Linked DNA regions of Homo sapiens. The protein of the gene in region 2 binds, or shares a complex with, the protein of the main gene of each other region. Each region holds a gene or a part of one and is shown on either strand. Other genes may lie near its edges. A codon is read from its position in the direction of its gene.

The links. Proteins that work in one complex are often made in the same cells at the same time.
Region 1: the proteins of CENPA (region 2) and HJURP are in contact, whole or in part, in a crystal structure (PDB 3R45), measured with the Homo sapiens proteins. Residues at the interface, in NP_001800.1 of Homo sapiens: Lys64 (codon at 3,175), Leu65 (codon at 3,178), Ser68 (codon at 3,187), Arg69 (codon at 3,190), Arg72 (codon at 3,714), Asp83 (codon at 3,747), Phe84 (codon at 3,750), Asn85 (codon at 3,753), Trp86 (codon at 3,756), Gln87 (codon at 3,759), Ala88 (codon at 3,762), Gln89 (codon at 3,765), Leu91 (codon at 3,771), Leu92 (codon at 3,774), Ala93 (codon at 3,777), Glu96 (codon at 3,786), Ala97 (codon at 4,100), Ala100 (codon at 4,109), Phe101 (codon at 4,112), His104 (codon at 4,121), Glu107 (codon at 4,130), Asp108 (codon at 4,133), Leu111 (codon at 4,142), Leu112 (codon at 4,145), Leu114 (codon at 4,151), His115 (codon at 4,154), Ile132 (codon at 4,205), Glu136 (codon at 4,217); in NP_060880.3 of Homo sapiens: Glu14 (codon at 4,602), Asp15 (codon at 4,605), Leu18 (codon at 4,614), Lys21 (codon at 4,623), Leu22 (codon at 4,626), Ser25 (codon at 4,635), Arg26 (codon at 4,638), Arg28 (codon at 4,644), Phe29 (codon at 4,647), Arg32 (codon at 4,656), Met33 (codon at 4,659), Leu36 (codon at 4,668), Lys39 (codon at 4,677), Tyr40 (codon at 5,153), Pro43 (codon at 5,162), Phe44 (codon at 5,165), Thr47 (codon at 5,174), Pro48 (codon at 5,177), Val49 (codon at 5,180), Val50 (codon at 5,183), Gln51 (codon at 5,186), Met52 (codon at 5,189), Ala53 (codon at 5,192), Thr54 (codon at 5,195), Leu55 (codon at 5,198), Ile65 (codon at 6,451), Trp66 (codon at 6,454), Gly67 (codon at 6,457).
Region 3: the proteins of CENPA (region 2) and NTMT1 are in contact, whole or in part, in a crystal structure (PDB 5CVD), measured with the Homo sapiens proteins. Residues at the interface, in NP_001800.1 of Homo sapiens: Gly2, Pro3, Arg4, Arg5, Arg6, Ser7; in NP_001273725.1 of Homo sapiens: Tyr19, Trp20, Met30, Leu31, Gly32, Tyr34, Ile37, Trp136, Asn168, Ile175, Asp177, Asp180, Asp212, Glu213, Ile214, Tyr215.

What each region holds. Positions count from the first base shown.
Region 1 is NC_000002.12:233,851,515-233,859,062, reverse strand, and holds the start of HJURP (Holliday junction recognition protein), read left to right. Parts: upstream 1-4,527; 5' UTR 4,528-4,562; coding exon 4,563-4,679; intron 4,680-5,152; coding exon 5,153-5,219; intron 5,220-6,441; exon of another isoform or gene 6,442-6,442; coding exon 6,443-6,498; exon of another isoform or gene 6,499-7,548. UniProt on the Homo sapiens protein: Centromeric protein that plays a central role in the incorporation and maintenance of histone H3-like variant CENPA at centromeres.
Region 2 is NC_000002.12:26,789,046-26,795,100, forward strand, and holds the end of CENPA (histone H3-like centromeric protein A), read left to right. Parts: intron 1-3,085; coding exon 3,086-3,195; intron 3,196-3,710; coding exon 3,711-3,788; intron 3,789-4,099; coding exon 4,100-4,234; 3' UTR 4,235-4,281; intron 4,282-4,766; 3' UTR 4,767-5,544; downstream 5,545-6,055. UniProt on the Homo sapiens protein: Histone H3-like nucleosomal protein that is specifically found in centromeric nucleosomes. Replaces conventional H3 in the nucleosome core of centromeric chromatin that serves as an assembly site for the inner kinetochore.
Region 3 is NC_000009.12:129,621,917-129,629,183, forward strand, and holds the start of NTMT1 (N-terminal Xaa-Pro-Lys N-methyltransferase 1), read left to right. Parts: upstream 1-4,246; 5' UTR 4,247-4,379; exon of another isoform or gene 4,380-6,799; intron 6,800-7,267. UniProt on the Homo sapiens protein: Distributive alpha-N-methyltransferase that methylates the N-terminus of target proteins containing the N-terminal motif [Ala/Gly/Pro/Ser]-Pro-Lys when the initiator Met is cleaved.

The sequences.
Region 1 (7,548 bases), about 210 Mb from region 2:
TGGGCACAGTGGCTGTAATCCCAGCACTTTGTGAGGCTGAGGTGGGTGGATTACTTGAGGTCAGGAGTTTGAGACCAGCCTGGCCAAACCCATCTCTACTAAAAATACAAAAAATTAGCTAGGTGTGGTGGCACGCACCAGTAATCTCAGCTACTCAGGAGGCTGAGGCAGGAGAATCACTTGAACCCAGGAGGCAGAGGTTGCAGTGAGCTGAGATCATGCCATTGTACTCCACCTGGGTCACAGGGCAAGACTGTCTCAAAAAAAAAAAAAAAGAATGAGTTTGGCTCCCTTTTGCTCTCTCTTGCCCTCTCTTGTTCTCCTACTTTACACCATGAGATGGCACAGCAAGAAGACCATCGCCAGAGGCCAATCACTCAGACCCTCACCACAGGCCAATCACTCAGTCTGGCTGGGACTCACCAGTCTTCAGATCTGTGAGAAATAAATTTCTGTTCATTATAAATTACAGGTTCATTACTCTCAGGTTTTATTATAGCAGCACAAAATGAACTAAGATAATTGGCCCCCTGTGTTTTCTAATTACATCAGTAATGCAAACTCATAATTGCACAGCAAACGCTCATTCTAGAAAATGCAGCTATGGAAAACTAATATTAAAAATAATTCATCACACCATCATCCAGAGACGGCCCTGGAAACATTCTGAGACGTATATACTCACACTTTTAAAACATGTATAATCATACTTTATATTATATAATATATACTTTTTAAATGCACACATAATACAGGTTTATAACCTTTTTGTATTAAACAGATCATATAGAATTTTGATATCAATAATTACACTTCTTCAAAATTCTTGCCAATAGAACACAAGTATCTATCATCATTTATTTTGCCATCCTTCTAGTATTGGACTTTATAAACTGCTTCACGAAAGATCCTCCAGCTAAATTCTTGCCAGCATCCTTAATTACTTCAGTTAGATGTGAGACTCATTCAATCAAACAACACATTTTGTGAGCTTTGGCTGACATCTCGTGGAAAGTCAGCTTGTTGCCTATTTCACAGCCTCTGTGTTTGCATCAGCTCTAGGGCAACAGAAAAAAGCAAACCCTTTTCTTAGCAGCCTAATAGGTGGGGTCTGATGTTTGCGATAATTTATCTTAGACTGACATTCTCACCGTTACACAGCAGTTTCTGTGTCAATGCTGGGACCAGCCAAAAGCTGCGCTTCTCCAACCACAGACTGGTGGTAACATTTCCACACCTTTCCAACAGAAACATATTTACATGACAACTCCATGCAGAATAAGTCTCCATCTCTTTTATTTGAAGCAAAATTCAGGCACATTTTATAAGAGCAGCCGTAATATAACTTTAAAGAGAACTATTTCCTAGGCATTTAAACAGCACTTGGAGGGTTGGAAATCCCAGCCCGGCCAGTAGAGGGCACTGTGCAGGGGCAGCCGGAGCCACCCGCCGTCATCTCTGGAAACCCTGTGAGATTCCAAGATGCTGCACCCAGAAACCTGCTGCTGGGGAAGGAGCTGACTTGTGATCCTTCCCTGTTATGTGGGAGTGGAAAGTGGTGGCAAAGGAGTTTGCTTAGCAGGTCTGGAGTAATATGGTTAGGCTGCCAAGGGTGGTAGGGTGAGGTGTTACAGAGAATGGCATTAAGGGAGGAGACCACTCCTCATATTGCCTTATGCTCAATTTCTGCCTCTAAAGAAAGAAGTAAAAACTAAAAGGCAGGAATGAAATCCACAAGCAGACAGCCTGGCGCCACACCCTGGGCCTGGTAGTTAAAGATCGACCCCTGACCTACTCGGTTATGTTATCTATAGATTACAGACATTGTATAGAAAAGCACTGTGAAAATCCCTGTCCCGTTCTGTTCCATTCTAATTACTGATGCATGCAGCCCCCAGTCACTTACCCCCTGCTTGCTCAATCGATCACGACCCTCTCACATGGACCTCCTTAGAGTTGTGAGCCCTTAAAAGGGACAGGAATTGCTCACTCGGGAGAGCTCGGTTGTTGGAGACGTGAGTCTTGCCGAAGCTCCCAGCTGAATAAAGCCCTTCCTTCTTTAACTCGGTGTCTGAGGGGTTTTGTCTGCGGCTTGTCCTGCTACAGCATCACATGAGAAGCATGATACAGGGTTCTTCTTTCTTTAGCTGGAGCACCACTTTAGACCATGGGATGGGGAAAGCCAGTCAGAGACGACTGGAAGACCACCAGGCCAGAACAATAAGGGTTAATGCATGGACTTTGGCTGGCTCAGAAGGAGTTTGGCTAAAGCAAGTATGTTTTGGACTTCAATTAAAGACTTGAACTTGAGATTGAGAAATCTTTCCACTGAAGCTGCCCCCAAACTCCTAGGACAGAGGCAGATGCTTGGATTGTCAGTGAAGCCAGCAAAGGAAATCTTGGAATGGTTTCCCAGGAATAGAGAATAAGCCCTGGGAGACGCCAGTTTTGAAAACTGGTACTATCGTGCTTGTTAGAGAGTCATGGTGAGGCAGGAGAATAGGGAACTGGGGTAGCAAAGGGTTGAGGCATAAGCAAAGGAACAGCAGATGCAGCCAGTTCGCATAAGCAAGAGAACAGCAGGTGCAGCCAGTTTTAAGCAAGATTGGGCAGGACATAGGCTACATCTTCACTCCCGTGATAACAAGAAAGAAGTTTCCACTTCAGCCCCTGAATGACTGCAGGCCAAGTTTCCACTTTAGGCTCTGATTGGTCACAGGCCAATCCTTCATAGGGTGTAACCAATTGGAGGCCTCTAAAGGGTACCCAGGGGTGTTGCCAAGTTCTTTTGGCTTTATAAAAACCCTAATTGAAGAGGCTCTTGAGCTGCGGGCTCCAGTCCGCTCGCACTCTGTGAATTGTCTTCAATGAATCTGTGCTTTCCTTACTCCGTTCTCCTGTTGCTTTGTTTTTCGTTGCTTCATTCCTTTGTTACTTTGTGTGTTTTGTTCAATTCTTTGTTCAACACACCAAGAACCTGGACAACTCTATCTGGTAACAATGGAAGAGTCAATCATCCAAAACTCAAAAAGAAAAAAGAAAATCTTATTCAAGGTCTCAAGTCTCTAAATGGGCCCAGTTAGATGTTTGAAAAGTAAATTATGTGTGGGAAGCACAGAGTCCAAGGAAGAGCATGTTAAGTTTCTGAACACTCCTAAGGAAGGAGGAGGAAGACACCTCGGTCTGTTTGTGAAAATTGGAAAAGGTACAAGTTAAATGTGTAGATCCTGCAACTGGAGAAGACTCAGAGAGGATGTTTATATAGGGAGGAAGGGAAGGAAAGAAACAGGATTGGTAGGTTACCCCATCCAATTCCGTGGAATTGAGAGCTCGGAAGATAAAGTGGCCCAGGGTTTTCTTCCATCAGACTGAAATGATACAGCCTTCCTGTTCCCACCTGGATCAGTCACTGGTGCTGGGCCACCCTGGGGCAGCAGGACCTTGGGTGAGGGAGTTCTCTGCAACTGAATCATCCCAGAATAGGCTGACAACTGAAGGCCCCTGCCAACTGCCCTCCTAGCAGCTGTGGCATCTTAAGGGGAATCAGGCCAGCACATCTCTGTGTCCAGCACAACGCAACACGTTTTGTGGACACACACACTACATGAGCCCTGAAGTTCTTACCCTCCACCCACTCCCACCTAAATTTCCGCAGGACATCATGATAGAATTGCCGTGCAGGCTGAAAGGAGGTGAAGAGCCCCCTCTAAGGGACCTCCTGGTGCTCAGTAATGCTTTTATTTTCAATCACATACTATGGTAATCATATCAGCACAAGCACACAAATGTGGTTAAGTGATGAAGCTGAATGAAACTTTCCTAAGATGTCAATCATAAATTCCATCAACCATACTAAAGACTGATTTATCTTGCTCTTCTCTCTGGAGAAAATATTACAAGATTAATATCAATGAAGAAGCAGAATATGCAATCAGAAATACATAGGGAAAAAGCTGGGTTAATAGAAGTATTTTCCTGGATTTTGTGATGTGTATCGCATTTGTCAGCATCTTTAAATGTGTCATTCGTTGAGACTTATTTTTTCCTTCTAGATGAATATTCGCTATCCTGCCTCCTTTTGGGTTGGTAATTTGGGGTTGTCTTTCTTAGGCCCCTGCCCTGGAAACTGCGCCGGGATCCCAGGCGGAGGGGTGAGGAAGGCGGACCTCGCCCAGCGGCGACACCCAGAGCAAGTCACGCAGAAATCTCCAGGCCGCACTTATCTCCGGTGCACAGCGCGGGAGATGACACGCATCCCACCGGATCTCGCACAGCACCGCTGATGAATAAGCACACAGCTGTTTGTACAACTACCACCGGCCGTGGCGGCCGGAGACCCTCCCTCCCTTCCGCCGGACATTGGGGCGTGGCTGGAAACTCGGGAGTGGATTGGCCGGAAGGTGGGACGCAAATTTGTTTGAAAGGCCCAATCAGTGCCCGGCTTCTCCGCTCTAGCCAATAGAAAACCGAGAGGAAGGCAGGGAGGGCGGAGTCTCCTATTTGAGTTTGTGGCGCGCGAGGCCCTGCAGTCCGGGTTGGCGCTTGGGTACTGGCTGGGTCCGATGCTGGGTACGCTGCGCGCCATGGAGGGCGAGGACGTGGAAGACGACCAGCTGCTGCAGAAGCTCAGGGCCAGTCGCCGCCGCTTCCAGAGGCGCATGCAGCGGCTGATAGAGAAGGTGCGGCCCCCGCCGGTCCGCCGGGAGGGGAGGCCTGCGTGTCGGAGTGAGGCTGGGAGGGGACGTAGGACGGGAAGGGAAGGGGCTCTGAGGACTCGGAGCGGGGGTTGGGGAAGCGGGACTGGGGCTTGGATGCGGAGAGAAGGTGGAGGCGGAGCTGGGGGCTCCGGAGAGGGAAAAAGGAGGCAGCGCCGAAGGCTTCGGTGCGGGGACGGGGAGGAAAGACTGGGGCCTCCGGAACGGGGAGTGGGGAAGCAGGCCTGGGGCTCGGGTGCAGAGAGGAGGGTTTGGTGGGGCTGGGGGTGCTCCTGAGTGGGACGAGAGAGGCGGAGTTGGGGGCTCCGCTGCAGAGACCGCGTTTGGGGCGCCCCAGGCCAGACTAACGGCCTCTCACGGGCTGGCGCCGCCTCCTCCCGGGTCTGGGGCCCCTCGTGGCCCTGGAACCTGACAGGAAGCCCCTTCCTCCTCCGCAGTACAACCAGCCCTTCGAGGACACCCCGGTGGTGCAAATGGCCACGCTGACCTACGAGACGCCACAGGGTAAGGGTCTTCCCCACCTTCTGAGTATTCGGGTGAAGAGTGTGAATGGAGTAGTTGAAATGCTGTCCCTGCTCTCTTAAGAAGTAAACATTGTTCACCTAACTAATAGGAACCAAAACATTGGTGCCCTTAAACCTGTAAATTACTTGAATTACTTATTAGAACAATTCCTGAAGAGACATAGGTGCCTCCTGGCTCACATGCCTCCGGCTTACCGGGTTGGCATCCCCGCTGGCCACCTCCCCACCATGGCAGCGTGGGGCAGTTGCTTAGCTGGACTGGTCTCAGTGTCTTCATCTGTGAAATGGGAAGGATGATGACAATAATGTCTCCTGGGCGTGGGTGTTGTAACAGTCACGTACAATCCCTATGAAACTGTGAACAGTACCCCGCCCCGCACTGTGAATACTCACATTGACTATTGTTTGCCCTGTTTAACTTGGAGTAGTAACTGTCTTCCTTGAGGCTCCAAGTACTTGAATAGGGAGGAGAAGGCATTCCGTTTAATAGTTAATGTAAACGGACTGAAATCTTGTGGATTCTTTTTGGTAAATAGCTGGTGACACTTTGCACTGGCTGGGGTCAATTCCTCCCATATAGCTTTATAACTAACTCAGTATCACTTAATGAAAACAAACCTCAGAGCAAGTTCTATGTTGCATTAAACGGACACAGAAGGTTCACAAGATCTGCTCCTTGAGTTAAAAGAAATCCTACCTTTCTGCCTTTATAGCCAATCCAGACACATCTTGGGTGAAAAGTTTACACAGGCAGAAACTAAAATATTCCAGTGGCAGGTCTGCTACCCTTTGGTCTCTGTATAACATGTAGATTGCCCTTAGAAAGCATTCATTCAGTATATGGGATGTAGAGATTGCCTGCGAAAAGTGCTTACTCCCTCTATATGGTATATAGATTGCCCTCTATATATTTTAAGGACAGTCGCTGTCATATGTTCCTTGTTTTCATTTAACTTTTTGGGCTAATGATGTAATTTGATGAGCCGTTTTCTAGTAGGTAGGAGAGATTTCCATGAATGACGAATTTGCCTTAAAAACCTGAAACTTTACAAAGAGGAACAATCGCAGGGTATCAGAAACCTGGCTTGGTTTTAATATTGTACCTTTTTTTTGCCTGTCACTTTGGCATCTGGTGAACACAGATTGAGCAGAAGTTCAGCGTTCAGGATTATGTAAATGGTCATTTTTGTTTCTTTTCTTCAGGATTGAGAATTTGGGGTGGAAGACTAATAAAGGAAAGAAACGAAGGAGAGATCCAGGTATTTAGTGTCAAATTTTATTGCCAAATAACCTTGCTGTGGAGGAGTATTCATATGAATAAAGGTGTGGGTATGCCCAACCTCTGAGCTTACGCAGAGGCCACCACGGGGCACTTTTTCTCATGATTATACTCTTTCTGTTTTTAAGGATTTAGAAGCATTTCTTCTGTAGCTTGTCAAGTGCAAGGAGTCACTGTGTAATATTTGGCCTTTTTCATCACCCTGTGTTTCCTGTGTCACAGGCTGAGGGGCTCTGATAATACATGTGCAGAGGCTGGGCCAGTTGGGTAACCCTCCCCAAGGTCACGTGCCAGCCCAGCGAGGCACTCACTTTGTTTGGGTCCTTACAGAAAATACCAAATCCAGTTCCTTCTAGGGAAGAAGAATGTCTCTCTTCCTGTTTTGAAAGGGGAGGAAGAGAGATGAGGAGAGGTGCAGCCTGGAGGATCACACATCTTTCCTTCTGCATTTTTCTACCTTCGGAAGACCCTGGCTTCCCTGCCTAGTTGATCCGAGGGTGTTGTCGCTCTGAGACCCGTTATTTTAGTGGAAGGTGCTGTTGGCCTTTCTACGGGGGCATCCAGGAGCCCTTTTGCCACAGTGGCTTTTGCCAGGTTATCTGGTATTCAGTTAATCACTGCCTCTCAGATGCCACATGGTTCCTCTCTGTGGTCACAGGTCAAGGAACCTGTATGAAAGAATGAAAAACATCAAGATCAATGTGACGATATTAACAGCAAATTTGAAATCAAATCTTCTTGATTAATTATTCTAGTCATAAAAATGTTAAAAGTACATACAACTACATAAATGAGCTGATTCCTCTCTGCAAAGATGGTCACTAATGCTATTTTAGTACAATGTGATTCCCTATAATACATATCTTTATAAATGCATTTTTTTCTCCCTCACTTTTCCGGTTAATACATCTGGCAAACTCTTCTCTTCATCAACTGTTGTATAATTATAAAATTATATAATTATTTAAAAAATCATGTTTTTTTAACTGCTCTCCTGTTGATAGGCAATTAGCTATTTGTGGCTTCCTTT
Region 2 (6,055 bases):
ATTTCCCTCTACTTCCCTTCATAGCTGTCCTTTTAAAATAGCCAGACTTGTTAGGTCCACATACATTGCATCTGATTCCTCCCTTCCTAGTGACCCTACAACCCACTCCAATCTGACTCCCCACAACCACTACCCCCACTTCTAATCTGCTTGAACTACTCCTGTCAGGGTCACTAGCACCTTTTGTAGTGCCAAATCCAGTAGGTGGGTCTGTGTTCTTACTGTGTCTCAGAAGCATTTGACGCAGTGGGCCTCTTTCTCCTTGAAGCGTTCTGTTCCCTTGGCTTCCATGCCACTGTGCACTCTGGCAGTTCTGCTTGGTGTTCTCTACTGCCTGTGCTGCCTCCCTCGGCTCCTTGATGTTGGACTTCCTTGACATCCTTTTCCTTTCTACCCCCTCCCTAGGTGGTCTCATCTCCTCCGTGGCTCTAAATCCCACTCATACATTGACAGCTCTCAAATATCTGTATACCTGGATCTCTCCTCTGACCCCAGATACCTATATCTAACTGCCTTTCTACCTGAAGGCTCTTGGTTATGTTAAACTTAACACACCCAAAACTGAACTTCTGGTTACTCCCCTCCAGCCCCTTCATCCTCAGCTTCCCCATTTCAGTAAATGGCACAACTACCCACCCAGTTGTTCAAACCACAAGCCTGGGAGACCCCCGTCTCCAATACAAATGCAGGTCCAGATAATTCTACTTCCAAACTGCATCCTTAATCACTCCATTTTCACCATCTCTGCTCCCACTAGCCTAGTCCAAGCTACCAGCAGCTCTCGAGCAACTGTGAGAGCCTCCTAATCAGCTGCCACTCCACTTCCACTCTGTCCCTTTCTACTTCTTTCCTTACACAGCAGCTGGAATGACCTTCCACATCTCTATCCTGCATAAAACTCTTCCCTGGCTTCTTATTACAGTAGGATTAAATTCCATCTCCTCATGTTGGCATTTCAAGACCCAGCTACTAAATTTTTGATCCCAGTTCTTTTCCATGATCTCTCTAATTGGTTACTTTTCATAACCACTTGTTCTTGGGTCATGGATTTCATATCTCTGTTACCTCTCTGAGTTCATTAACCATTTTTCTCTCAAAGTTTCTATTTCTTTTCTCTATTAACTCAATTTCCTCTGGTATTGGCTATTTTGTTTGTTGAGTTTGGTTCCTTTCTTTCATGGTATTGGCCTTCTTAAATTGTTGGGTGATCTTTAGTTGTGTTCATCTTCAAATTTTCTGTGAATGCTATGTCTTGTTTATTTTTTTATTTTATTTTATTTATTTATATATTTTTGTTTGAGACACAGTCTCATTCTTGTTGCCCAGGCTAGAGTACAGTGGTGCGAGCTTGGCTCACTGCAACCTCCATCTCCTGGGTTCAAGCAATTCTCCTGCCTCAGCCTCCCAAGTAGCTGGGATTACAGGTGCCTGCCACCATGCCCGGCTAATTTTTGTATTTTTAGTAGAGATGGGTTTCTCCATGTTCATCAGGCTGGTCTCGAACTCCTGACCTCAGGTGATTGACCCACCTTGGCCTCCCAAAGTGCTGGGATTACAGGCGTGAGCCACCGCACCCAGCCCTATGTCTGTTTATTAAAGACTGCCTCCAGTGACTGGATTGCCAACTGGTGGTGGGGAGGGAGGGAGGTGTCAGTAGTTTTTCTCCTGGGCATGGGTCTTCCCAGTTTTAAATGTTATCAGTCTTCTGGACACTGCCCTGTTTCATTGGCCTGTGTTCTCTAGCCTCACCCAGGGATGGTCTCCTCTGCTGGCTGCCTGGCACAGGCCATCTCTGGATTGTCTCACCTACCCTACTTGCTCTTGCAGCTCTTCTAACACTTCGTGATTAGTTTATTGTATTAAATGCCTTCTATCGAACTTGGTGTAGAGTCTCTTTGCTTGGCTGGATCCTGAATAACATTTCTGAAACAATTTTATCCGTCAACATGTTATTTTTGTATTTTGTTTGTTCAACTTATCAGATGTTCACTCATCTTGATCCTTGGTTGTAATTATGGAGCAACTGTGCTGTTTTTTCTTTAACTTTATTTTCACTAACTTATTTTCTAATATTTCTTTTGTTCTATCTTGTTTTGGTTTACTTTAATAACTCTGTAATACTTAATTTGACTGCTTGGCTCAGATACCTTTTAGTGTTCTTGTTTTCTAATAGGAACACTTTAAGGCTATGCATTTTCCTCTAGTACTATTTTGGCTGTATCTCATAAGTTTTGGGATATGGGCTTTTTATTGTTATTCATTTCCAAATAGTCTAATTTCAATTAAGTTTCCTCTTCAACACAGGTTAGTTAGAAGAAACTGGTTTTTGATTCATGAGTTTTTAATTTCCAATTAGAGAATTTGGCTTTTTTGATTCCTACTTTTGGGAATGTTTTTAAAATTATTTTCTTTTTTGTTCTTGTTGGAACCAGGATTTGAGCCAAAGGCTCTGTCTCCACAGCCCAGGTGCCTGACACTGACACTGAGTTAGGCCACACCTTACACAGGTCTCAGCTTGGCCACTAATGAGGGCTGGCCAACCATCTTCACCTCGCTGGGCCTCAGGATGATCAAGACAAGGGAATTGTACTAGTCTCTCAGATTCTTTCCAGCTGTAAAAAACAAACCAACAAAAAATCTAAAACCAAAATAACTGAGCTTCCAATCTAGGTGGGAAAGATCTAAGACTTGTACAAAGTCCTGCAAAGCCCAGAGGAGGGCGGTCACCCATCTGTTTGGAAGGATCAGGATTCGGGAAAGACTTCATGGAAGAGTTAGCATTTAAAATCAACTGCAGAGGATCATTCACTCATTCATTTAACAAATGTTTATTTAGCACCTATCTGCTATTTTCTAATTGCTGAAGATAGCAGCAAAATTACTATATATCAGGTTGGTGCAAAAGTATTGTGGTTTTTGCCATAACTGCAATGACTTTTGCAGCAACCTAATAAAACAGACAAAAATCCCTGCTCTGTGGAGGGTAGGCACATAGATATAGTCTAGCAATTTGACAGCTTACCTGACTCAGCCAAGCTGCGAGGCACCACCTATTTTCCACTGAACTTACCTTTCTTTTGCTCAGGCGCTTCCTCCCATCAACACAGTCGGCGGAGACAAGGTTGGCTAAAGGAGATCCGAAAGCTTCAGAAGAGCACACACCTCTTGATAAGGAAGCTGCCCTTCAGCCGCCTGGTAAGCTCCGGGAGCTTCCCACCAACCCCTATGCCACCCTCCTTTTTTTAAATTTTCCCAGGTATTAGGGACCCTACTGTCTCTTAACTAACTGGCCAAGGGACCTCTTTTGTAACCTGGTAGGGGATTCTTTTCTGAAAACATGAGCCCTCCAAGAGCACCTTGTAATTCTTTATGGAATTGATTTCTAACCTCTACTACCTTTTTAAAACTGTAGTTTTTGACTGTATAAATAGGAACTCTCTCGTTTGTCCACCTTAGATCCCTTTTCCTATCCTGGGAGATTGCCTCTCATCACCCAATTACTGGTGATTTCCCCATCACCAGTAAGAGATCCGCCAGTTCCTAAGCTCCCAGGAGTCAACACCTGCTCCTAATTGGGTCCTAAGATTAAGAGCCAGGAAAAAATAATGGAAAGGAAGATTCACTGGAACTCATGGAGAGCATCATTGTCCCTTGAATCTCTCTTCTGTTACTCCCTACTCCTACTCCTCCCCTTCCCCACTCCTTCACAGGCAAGAGAAATATGTGTTAAATTCACTCGTGGTGTGGACTTCAATTGGCAAGCCCAGGCCCTATTGGCCCTACAAGAGGTAAGAAGGCACCAAGGCACAATTGGGTGAGGGCTGAGTGGGAGAAAGAGGCAGCCTAGAATTCTCCAGTGCTGACTGGAGTGTCACATGCTGAATCTGACCTCTGGAAAAGAACAATGAGGTAACCTCTGAGGGTTTGGAGGCTGGATTCTGCGTGGTGATAGCAGAATTCCCTGGCAAAGTTCAGTCTCATTCTGTGAATAGTTTCCTACAATCCTTTGAGCCCTCAGAGATTAAGTTTAGCAGGTTTCCAAAAAAAAGCAGCCCGTGGCCCTTCATCTGTGTCCGTCTTTTTCTCTTTCTGTCTCCAGGCAGCAGAAGCATTTCTAGTTCATCTCTTTGAGGACGCCTATCTCCTCACCTTACATGCAGGCCGAGTTACTCTCTTCCCAAAGGATGTGCAACTGGCCCGGAGGATCCGGGGCCTTGAGGAGGGACTCGGCTGAGCTCCTGCACCCAGTGTTTCTGTCAGTCTTTCCTGCTCAGCCAGGGGGTAAGCTCATCCTCTTTCACAGGACTGGGGCTGGAATTTCTCAAGTAATTTCCTTTCTCCATCCATAGTCCCTTGTCACCTCGCCTTCCCTTTGTTCTCTAGTAAAGGTTGATCTAGTTTTGACTGCCTGGGACAATGTGGTTTGTGCCCTTTTGTGCAATGTTAGATAAAAGATATCTTTCTATTAAATAATAACCAGATGACCCTAATTTCTTTTGGTTGTTATTGTTGTTGTTTTATTTTTATAAGACAGGGTCTCTGTCATCAGTGTTGCCATCGTGGCTCACTGCAACTCCTGCCTTGGCCTCCCAAAGTGTTGAGATTACAAGAATCAGATGACCTCATTTTGATTAAGAGAAAACTTTCTAATAAACTTTCTAATAAAAGAGAACACTTTCTAATAAAAACTTTCTCTTTTTTGATTAAGAGAAAGTTTTCTTACTTTTGAAAATGGCTTGTTAGTAAGTGTGCTTCCTTAATTTCAGGGATGATACCGGGGACTCTCCAGAGCCATGACTAGATCCAATGGATTCTGCGATGCTGTCTGGACTTTGCTGTCTCTGAACAGTATGTGTGTGTTGCTTTAAATATTTTTCTTTTTTTTGAGAAGGAGAAGACTGCATGACTTTCCTCTGTAACAGAGGTAATATATGAGACAATCAACACCGTTCCAAAGGCCTGAAAATAATTTTCAGATAAAGAGACTCCAAGGTTGACTTTAGTTTGTGAGTTACTCATGTGACTATTTGAGGATTTTGAAAACATCAGATTTGCTGTGGTATGGGAGAAAAGGCTATGTACTTATTATTTTAGCTCTTTCTGTAATATTTACATTTTTTACCATATGTACATTTGTACTTTTATTTTACACATAAGGGAAAAAATAAGACCACTTTGAGCAGTTGCCTGGAAGGCTGGGCATTTCCATCATATAGACCTCTGCCCTTCAGAGTAGCCTCACCATTAGTGGCAGCATCATGTAACTGAGTGGACTGTGCTTGTCAACGGATGTGTAGCTTTTCAGAAACTTAATTGGGGATGAATAGAAAACCTGTAAGCTTTGATGTTCTGGTTACTTCTAGTAAATTCCTGTCAAAATCAATTCAGAAATTCTAACTTGGAGAATTTAACATTTTACTCTTGTAAATCATAGAAGATGTATCATAACAGTTCAGAATTTTAAAGTACATTTTCGATGCTTTTATGGGTATTTTTGTAGTTTCTTTGTAGAGAGATAATAAAAATCAAAATATTTAATGAAAATGGACTTACTGTTACAGCATAGAGATTATACTGTACTTTTTGTGTGTTAAAAATAAGTTCTTTATTTGTTTGCAAACAGCCACAATTTTTTTTTCTTTTTTTTTTTTTTGAGATGGAGTCTTTTTTTTTATTGATCATTCTTGGGTGTTTCTCGCAGAGGGGGATTTGGCAGGGTCATAGGACAATAGTGGAGGGAAGGTCAGCAGATAAACAAGTGAACAAAGGTCTCTGGTTTTCCGAGGCAGAGGACCCTGCGGCCTTCCGCAGTGTTTGTGTCCCTGGGTACTTGAGATTAGGGAGTGGTGATGACTCTTAATGAGCATGCTGCCTTCAAGCATCTGTTTAACAAAGCACATCTTGCACCGCCCTTAATCCATTTAACCCTGAGTGGACACAGCACATGTTTCAGAGAGCACAGGGTTGGGGGTAAGGTCACAGATCAACAGGATCCCAAGGCAGAAGAATTTTTCTTAGTACAGAACAAAATGAAAAGTTTCCCATGTCTACTTCT
Region 3 (7,267 bases), on a different chromosome or scaffold from region 2:
GTGCCTCTCCCAGCCCCTCCCGGCTGCCTCTGGGCCGCTTCAGGGTCATTGTGATCCGCCCCTCACCCCTGGGCATCTGAGTAGCAGTGGGCACTGAGGCCTGGGGACTAAGGGTGGGGCTATTGTGCCCTGGATGCCCTGGCCGCAGCCACCTGGGGCACTGGGACTCTGACCAGGGCAGCCAGGCCTACCCTTTCCAGATCTGGGAGGCTTAGGCTGGGTGGCTCTGGAAGTAGAACTTCCACCCCAAGACCAGGCAGTCAGAATACAATGGACCTAGAAATGAACAGACCCTGCGGGGCACGGTGTCTCACGCCTGTAATCCCAGCACTTTGGGAGGCCGAGGCGGGCGGATCACCTGAGGTCAGAAGTTCAATACCAGCCTGGCCAACATGGTGAAACCTCGTCTCTACAAAAAATACCAAAATTTGCCATGCATGGTGTTGTGCACCTATAATCCCAGCTACTTGGGAGGCTGAGACAGGAGAATCGCTTGACCCTGGGAGGCGGAGGTTGCAGTGAGCTGAGATCATGCCACTGCACTCCAGCCTGGGTGACAAAGCGAGACTCCATCTCAAAAATAATAATAATAATAATCCAAGGTCTGGGTGCTAGGTGTGCTTCTTGCTATTGAGATGTCATTTCTTTCAGGCAGTCTCAGCTGACAAAGAAATGTGTGTGTATACTATGAAACACACACATATCTATAAATATTTCTATAGGTAACCATCTGTACTTATATTAAGCTAAACATGAGCTCATGCTGACATCTCCAACTCTAATCCGTTACACAGATCATTTGAGACTCTGTCTCACAAAAAAAAAAGAGGCCAGGTTCCAGTGGCTCATACCTGTAATCCTAACACTTTGGGAGACCGAGGCAGGTGGATTGCCTGAGCTCAGGAGTTCGCAATCAGCCTGGGCCACATGGTGAAACCCCGTCTCTACTAAAATACAAAAAAATTAGCCGGGCGTGACAGCGTGTGCCTGTAGTCCCAGCTACTTGGGGGGCTGAGGTAGGAGAATTGCTTGAACCCGGGAGGCGGAGGTTGCAGTGAGCCGAGATCACGCCACTGCACTCCAGCCTGGGCAACAGAGTGAGACTCCATCTCCATAAAAAAAAAAAGAAAGAAAGAGCCGGGCACGGTGGCTCACGCCTGTAATCCCAGCACTTTGAGAGGACAAGGCGGGTGGATCATGAGGTCAGGAGATCGAGACCATCCTGGCTAACACGGTGAAACCCTGTCTCTACTAAAAATACAAAAAATTAGCTGGTTGTGGTGACGGGTACCTGTAATCCCAGCTACGCGGGAGGCTGAGGCAGGAGAATGGCGTGAACCCAGGAGGCGGAGCTTGCAGTGAGCGGAGATCGCGCCACTGCACTCCAGCCTGGGCGACAGAGCAAGATTCCATCTCAAAAAAAAAAAAAGAAGGAAGGAAGGAAGGAAGGAAGAAAAGAAATTAACAGACCCACTTTCAAGTCCATGGTCTGCTGTTTTGCTGTGTGATCCTGGAGAAGTGTCTTCTTTCTCAGGACTCCCTGGGCCTTATCTCTGAGTCTTGGCTGGGAGAGGGCCGAGAGGAAGCTCATAGTATTGTGAAGCTGGGGTGGGAGACAGAGGTCATTTACATGAGTATTTCACTGGCGTGGCATAGTTTCATAATTTGAAAATGAAGAAACGACTTTGTAATTCAAATAACAGAGTGACTCACTAGAGAACGCGTCGCCAAAGATATATTCTATTTTCTGTCAATGCTTCTCACCAGGGATGGAGGGACATACTTTCCTGGAGAGCTACAATATTGAGTGGGGGAGGGAGATATTTTTGTATTTATTTAAAGGGTATGTGTCTTTTTTAATGGCTGCGAAACACCAGATTAACTAGACGGTTTCTTTTTTTCTTTTCTTTTCTTTTTTTTTTTTTTGGAGACGGAGTCGCGATCTCAGCTCACTGCAAGCTCCGCATCCTGGGTTCACCCCATTCTCCTGCCTCAGCCTCCCGAGTAGCTGGGATTACAGGTGCCCACCACCACGCCCGGCTAATTTTTTTGTATTTTTAGTAGAGACGGGGTTTCACCGTGTTAGCCAGGATGGTCTCGATCTCCTGCCCTTGTGATCCACCTGCCTCGGCCTCCCAAAGTGCTGAGATTACAGGCGTGAGCCACTGCGCCTGGCCTAACTAGATGGTTTCTAAGGAGCCCTCCAGCCCTTGCACTCTGCAAATATTTATCAAGGAACTACTATGTGCTAGGCTTGGGAATTCAGAGATGCCAGAGGCTTTGAGGTCAGGGAGCCGGCCAGTCCTGGGAAGGCCTTGGAGCGTGGCTGTGGGGAAGGGGCTTGCTCTTCTGTTGACAGGAAATAAGACAGGGCTGGATTTTTAGGCATACAGAGAGCTTGGATCAGAGCTGCCCCCTGGCGGAGGATTCCGGACACCCCCACCGATTGAAATTGCCCAGGATCAATCCCTTTGCTTAAAGACACAGAAAATGAAGCTTGGGAGAGGGGCTCAGACCAGGGGTAGCAGTTGTGACCTAGAATAGTCTAGAGGGTATGCCAAATAAGATGCACATACACACATCCTGCGGACTCAATGCAGAAGGGGCTTTTTAGCATCCCCTTTCTACCGTAGCTTTCAACACATTTAGAGCAAACACACTTTAAGCACCTTCTGTGTGCGTCGCCCAGAGGAAGGAACACCAGGATAGTATTATTATTATTTTATTTTTGAGACAGAGTTTCGTTCTTGTCACCCAGGCTGGAAAGCAATGGCGCGATCTAGGCTCATTGCAACTTCTGCCTCCTAGGTTCAGGCTATTCTCCTGCCTCAGCCTCAGAGTAGCTGGGACTACAGGCATGCACCACCATCCCTGGCTAATTTTGTATTTTTAGTAGAGACGGGGTTTTGCCATGTTGGCCAGGCTGGTCTCAAATTCCTGACCTCAGGTGATCCGCCTGCCTTGGCCTCCCAAAATGCTGGGATTAGAGTCGTGCACCACCGTGCCCTGCCAACACAAGGATATTATTAATAGTATAGGAAAAATGAACTTAAGATGGATATTGTCATTATAACAGCTTCCATTTCCTGAGAACCCACTGCAGGTGCTGAGCTGAAGGTCTGACGTGCAATGTCCCACAAGTTTAACCCTCTCAGAGCATCAGAAGTTGAGTAATTATTACGTTGCTCAACTTCCTCTTCTGACAGGAGACTGAAGCTCGGAAATGTTAACAGGCTCTACCCACCTGCAAGCTCCCGTTTCCATCACCGCTGCCTCGGAGATAGCTCCAGAATTTCTTTGCATGGGAGGAGCCTAGGGAAGGGCCACGCTTTTGGAATGGAAACGTCATGGGCTTGTTTTGCTCATTTCAGTGGGAATCCCATGGCACTGCCGAGAGTATTTCTTTTTATTTTATTTATTTTGGGGGGTCGGTATTATTTTAAGATGCTAATGGAGATGGGTGGATTTGAGGACCAATGGCTTTTTTTTCCCTTTTTACTCAAAGCCCGCACAACACACTCGTTTTTAGAAGTCCAGCCTGCAGCCTCCAAACGAACTGTTGTACGTGCTGGGGACGGGGAGAGGGCGACGCTGCGGCTCTTTTCCGTTCGGGAGGTCCTTCTAGATTCCCAAAAGTCAATTTAGTCAAGTTTTGAGCTGTAACCTGTGTTGGGCGCGGTGGCTCACGCATGTAATCCCAGCAGTCTGGAAGGCCGAGGTGGAAGCCTCGCTTGAGGCCAGGAGTTCAAGATCAGCCTGAGCAACAGGGTGAGACCCCGTCTCTAATTTTTTTTTTTTAAAGAAGTCAAATTAGGCCAGGTGCGGTGGCTCACGCCTATAATCCCAACACTTCGGAAGGCAGAGGCGGGCGGATCACTTGAAGTCAGGAGTTCGAGACCAGCCTGGCCAACATGGTGAAAACCCGTCTCTACTAAAAATACAAAAATTAGCTGGGTGTGGTAGCTCACGCCTGTAGTCCCAGGTACTCTGGAGGCTGACGCAGGAGAATCGCTGGAACCTGGGAGGCAGAGGTTGCGGTGAGCCGAGATCGCGCCACTGCACTCCAGCCTGCTTGACAGAGCAAGATTCTATCTCAAAAAAAAAAAAAAAAAAATTTAAATTATTTTTCAAAAGAAGTTAAGTTAAATCCGGAGCCCGCGCGGGGGAGGGGCGAGCTGAGCGAGGGGGTGGAGCCAGCCATGGGCCCGCCCCTAAACGCCCGGAAGTGACGTTGGCGGACAAAGGCAGCGCGCGCCGCGAGCTGTCGCGTCTGGTCGTGGTCTGGCGGAGCTGCGGTTGGCTTGTGGCGTCTCCGCCGCCGCCGCCCTCCCTTCCTCTTCCCCATCTTCTTCTCTCGGTCCCGGGAGCCCCCGCCCGGAGTGAGTAGCGCGAGGCGGTGCGAAGGGTAGGCAGCCGCTGGGAGAGGGGAGGCTGCGACCCCTAACTGTTTCGGCGCCCTGAGGTCCCGGGTCCCCGGCTCGTCACGTGACCCGGCGCGTGCGCGCGGGCCGGCACAGGCCTCACGTGCGCGTCCCCAAGAGGTCTACGGGCCGGACCTGGGCAGGGACTACGGAGCAGTCCATGGGTCGGGGTACAGGAGGAAAGTCAAGGCACTCAAAGCCCAGGCAGGGCACTCCCCCACCCCGGTCCCCAGACCGCAGCAAATCCCTTTCTCTGAGCCTGTTTCCCTTCCGAGAAACAGGGATATGGAGAGCGCCCACTTGGAGGATGGATGGGAGGAATCGGTAAAATCGGTAAAATGCCCAGTTCAGAGCCTGGCACAGTTAAGTGCCCGCTGCACAGAAGTTGCTGTCGTATTTAACCTTGGGTGCCACCCGAGCGCCAGCCCGACACAGGTGCAGCTCAAAAAAGACAGCCCGAGAGCCCTTGCGGCCAAGGTCAGCCTGTCTGCAGGGAGGCTGCCATATCGAAAAGCCCAGACTTTGCTGCGCACCAACTGTGTGATCTCTCCCTCTGGACTTTGGTTTCTCCTCTGTACTATAAGTGATTGCCACAACTGGTGTCAGAGGCCCTGACAGCGGGGAGGGACAGTGTAACCGGTGGTTGTGGTGTGTAGAATGATTGCCCAGTGAGATGGGATGAGCCTCTGGGAGGAACCAGGGCTGGTATAAGGAGCCTGGATTCCCTCCTTAATTCTGTTCTCGGCTTCCTGTTTGTATGTTTAAAGACACGTCACTTCCTTTAGTGTGCTGGTTTTTCTCTATGTAAACTGAGGACTGTGCGGGGGTTGGAAGGATGCATGGAGCGTTTTGGTGGAGGCCGGAAGCCCTAGGATCACAAGGATGGCATCTAAAAAATCTCGGTGGGGGTTCTGTGCTTATAGGCAGAGGAAGCTCACTCCCCACTCTGGCTGATTTGCAGAGCTGTTTGAGTCTGCTGGCTTGGCCGCCCAGCATACCAGTAACAGTCCCCTAGGTGTGTCCAATACAGCTTCTGTGGCATTCTAAGGCAGTTTTCCCATTTGATCCTCATAGTGGGCAGAGTTGACAAGAATCTCATTTGACAGAGATTTCTAAGCTCAAGAGAGAATATGTGCCCGGCACTGTGCAAAGCACTTTAAGCTTTTCATATGCACTTTTAATCACAGCCTTTCTGTAAAGTCGGTATTACTGTTCCATTTTATAGGTGAACTGAGGAATGGTGAGGTTTAATGTCTTGTCTGTGCTTACACAGCAGGTGTGCAGAGCCAAGATTCAGATCTGGTTCATCTGGCTCCATCAGAGCCTTTGTTAGTTTTTAAATGTATCCCCTGTTTTGTCTTCTTCCCTCCCTTTCTCACTTCCTTCTTTTTCTTAGAGCACTCTGCCGTTTGCATGTGGCCTGCTGCTGTCCACAAAGATCCAGGGAGGATGGACTCTGTCCACTAGGCTGCTAGAGGGTGGAGGTAACTTTTAGGCAGGCTTTTCCGTAGAGACTTACGTGAGGAGGATGAGATGACTGCAAAAGTCTGCCGGTGACAGTTTCAGCACTGTTTTCTTCCATGGGTCGTGGGAGAAGAGATGCAGTACCTTGGGTCTGAACACCTTGGCGGGGAGGAGGAGGCAGCAGCCAGGTGACTGTGAAGGATGTAGGATCACATTTACTGGCTGAGCAGCCATTTACCAGGCATGAGGGGTTTGTCTTCCTCTCTGAGCTAGCCTAGAGTGCACACAAAGCCCGTGTGCTCCTGGCCCCCTCCCAGGCCCTTCAGCCACATACGGCATCTGTGCTCTGGAGCAGAGTGTAGCAGGACCACCTGCTGTTGGCTGACTGACCTTGCTGTTCCCTCAGACTCTTAGGGACCTCCTCCTGCCCCACTCCAATCTGGACACCACGAGGCAAAATGTAGCCAGGACCCCAGGAATCCCGTTTATTAATGAATCAGCTGTTAGGGCAGATGTCAAAGTCAGGCTTGCTATTTCCCGGCCAGGATGTGCCTCCCCTGGCTTGTTCCCAGAATTTGCGTGTAAGTGGAATTCTTGTAAATTAGATTATTCAGGGGACCCTGACATTTAAAGGAATCATGTTACAAGGCTTTTGGTAAAGCACAGAATTATATTGTCGGTAGCAGCCTTCAGGCCTTCAGTATTTACCAGTTCTGAATGGTTGGACTTTTGTCTGTAGGATTTTCTTAGAGTGGAAAATGGCTATAGCTGCACAAAGCCCATTCTTGCATTATTTGGCAACCAGTTAGTCAATGCCCACCTGGTATCAGGCACTGGGCTAATGGTGTACAAGGTAATGTCTCTACCCCCAGGAAGCTGCATGCTGGGAGAGGAGACGGATGGAGTCCAGCCTGGTATGTGTTTGCCCCCAGATTTATTCTGTTCATTTGATCAGAGGTGAACTTTCTGTTGAATATTTGTGTTTCATGGGATGCAAGAGAAGCATGGTGATAAATCTCAAATGTTGCCACTGCTCTCAGGAGCTCCCCGGCCAGGCGAGAGAGAGAACTGAATACAAAACCTTCAGTTTGCCAAGTTGGGCGGTGAGAGGGAGACAGGCTTGCTCTCGCCATGGTCCAGTCTGAATGGGAGTTGTGCCAGCATGGTGTGGAAGAGTAGTAGTTCGTTTTTTAACCTTTGTCTTTAATTTTCCCAGCCACCAAGTGTTTTTTGTTTTTTGAGACAGGGTCTCGCTCTGTTGTCCAGGCTGGACTCAAACTCCTGGGCTCAAGCAGTCTTCCCACCTCAGCCTCCCAAAGGGCTCAGGTTATAGGTTATAGGTTATAGAGTAGTTTTGAATGCCGTCCTCTCTTGAGTGACTG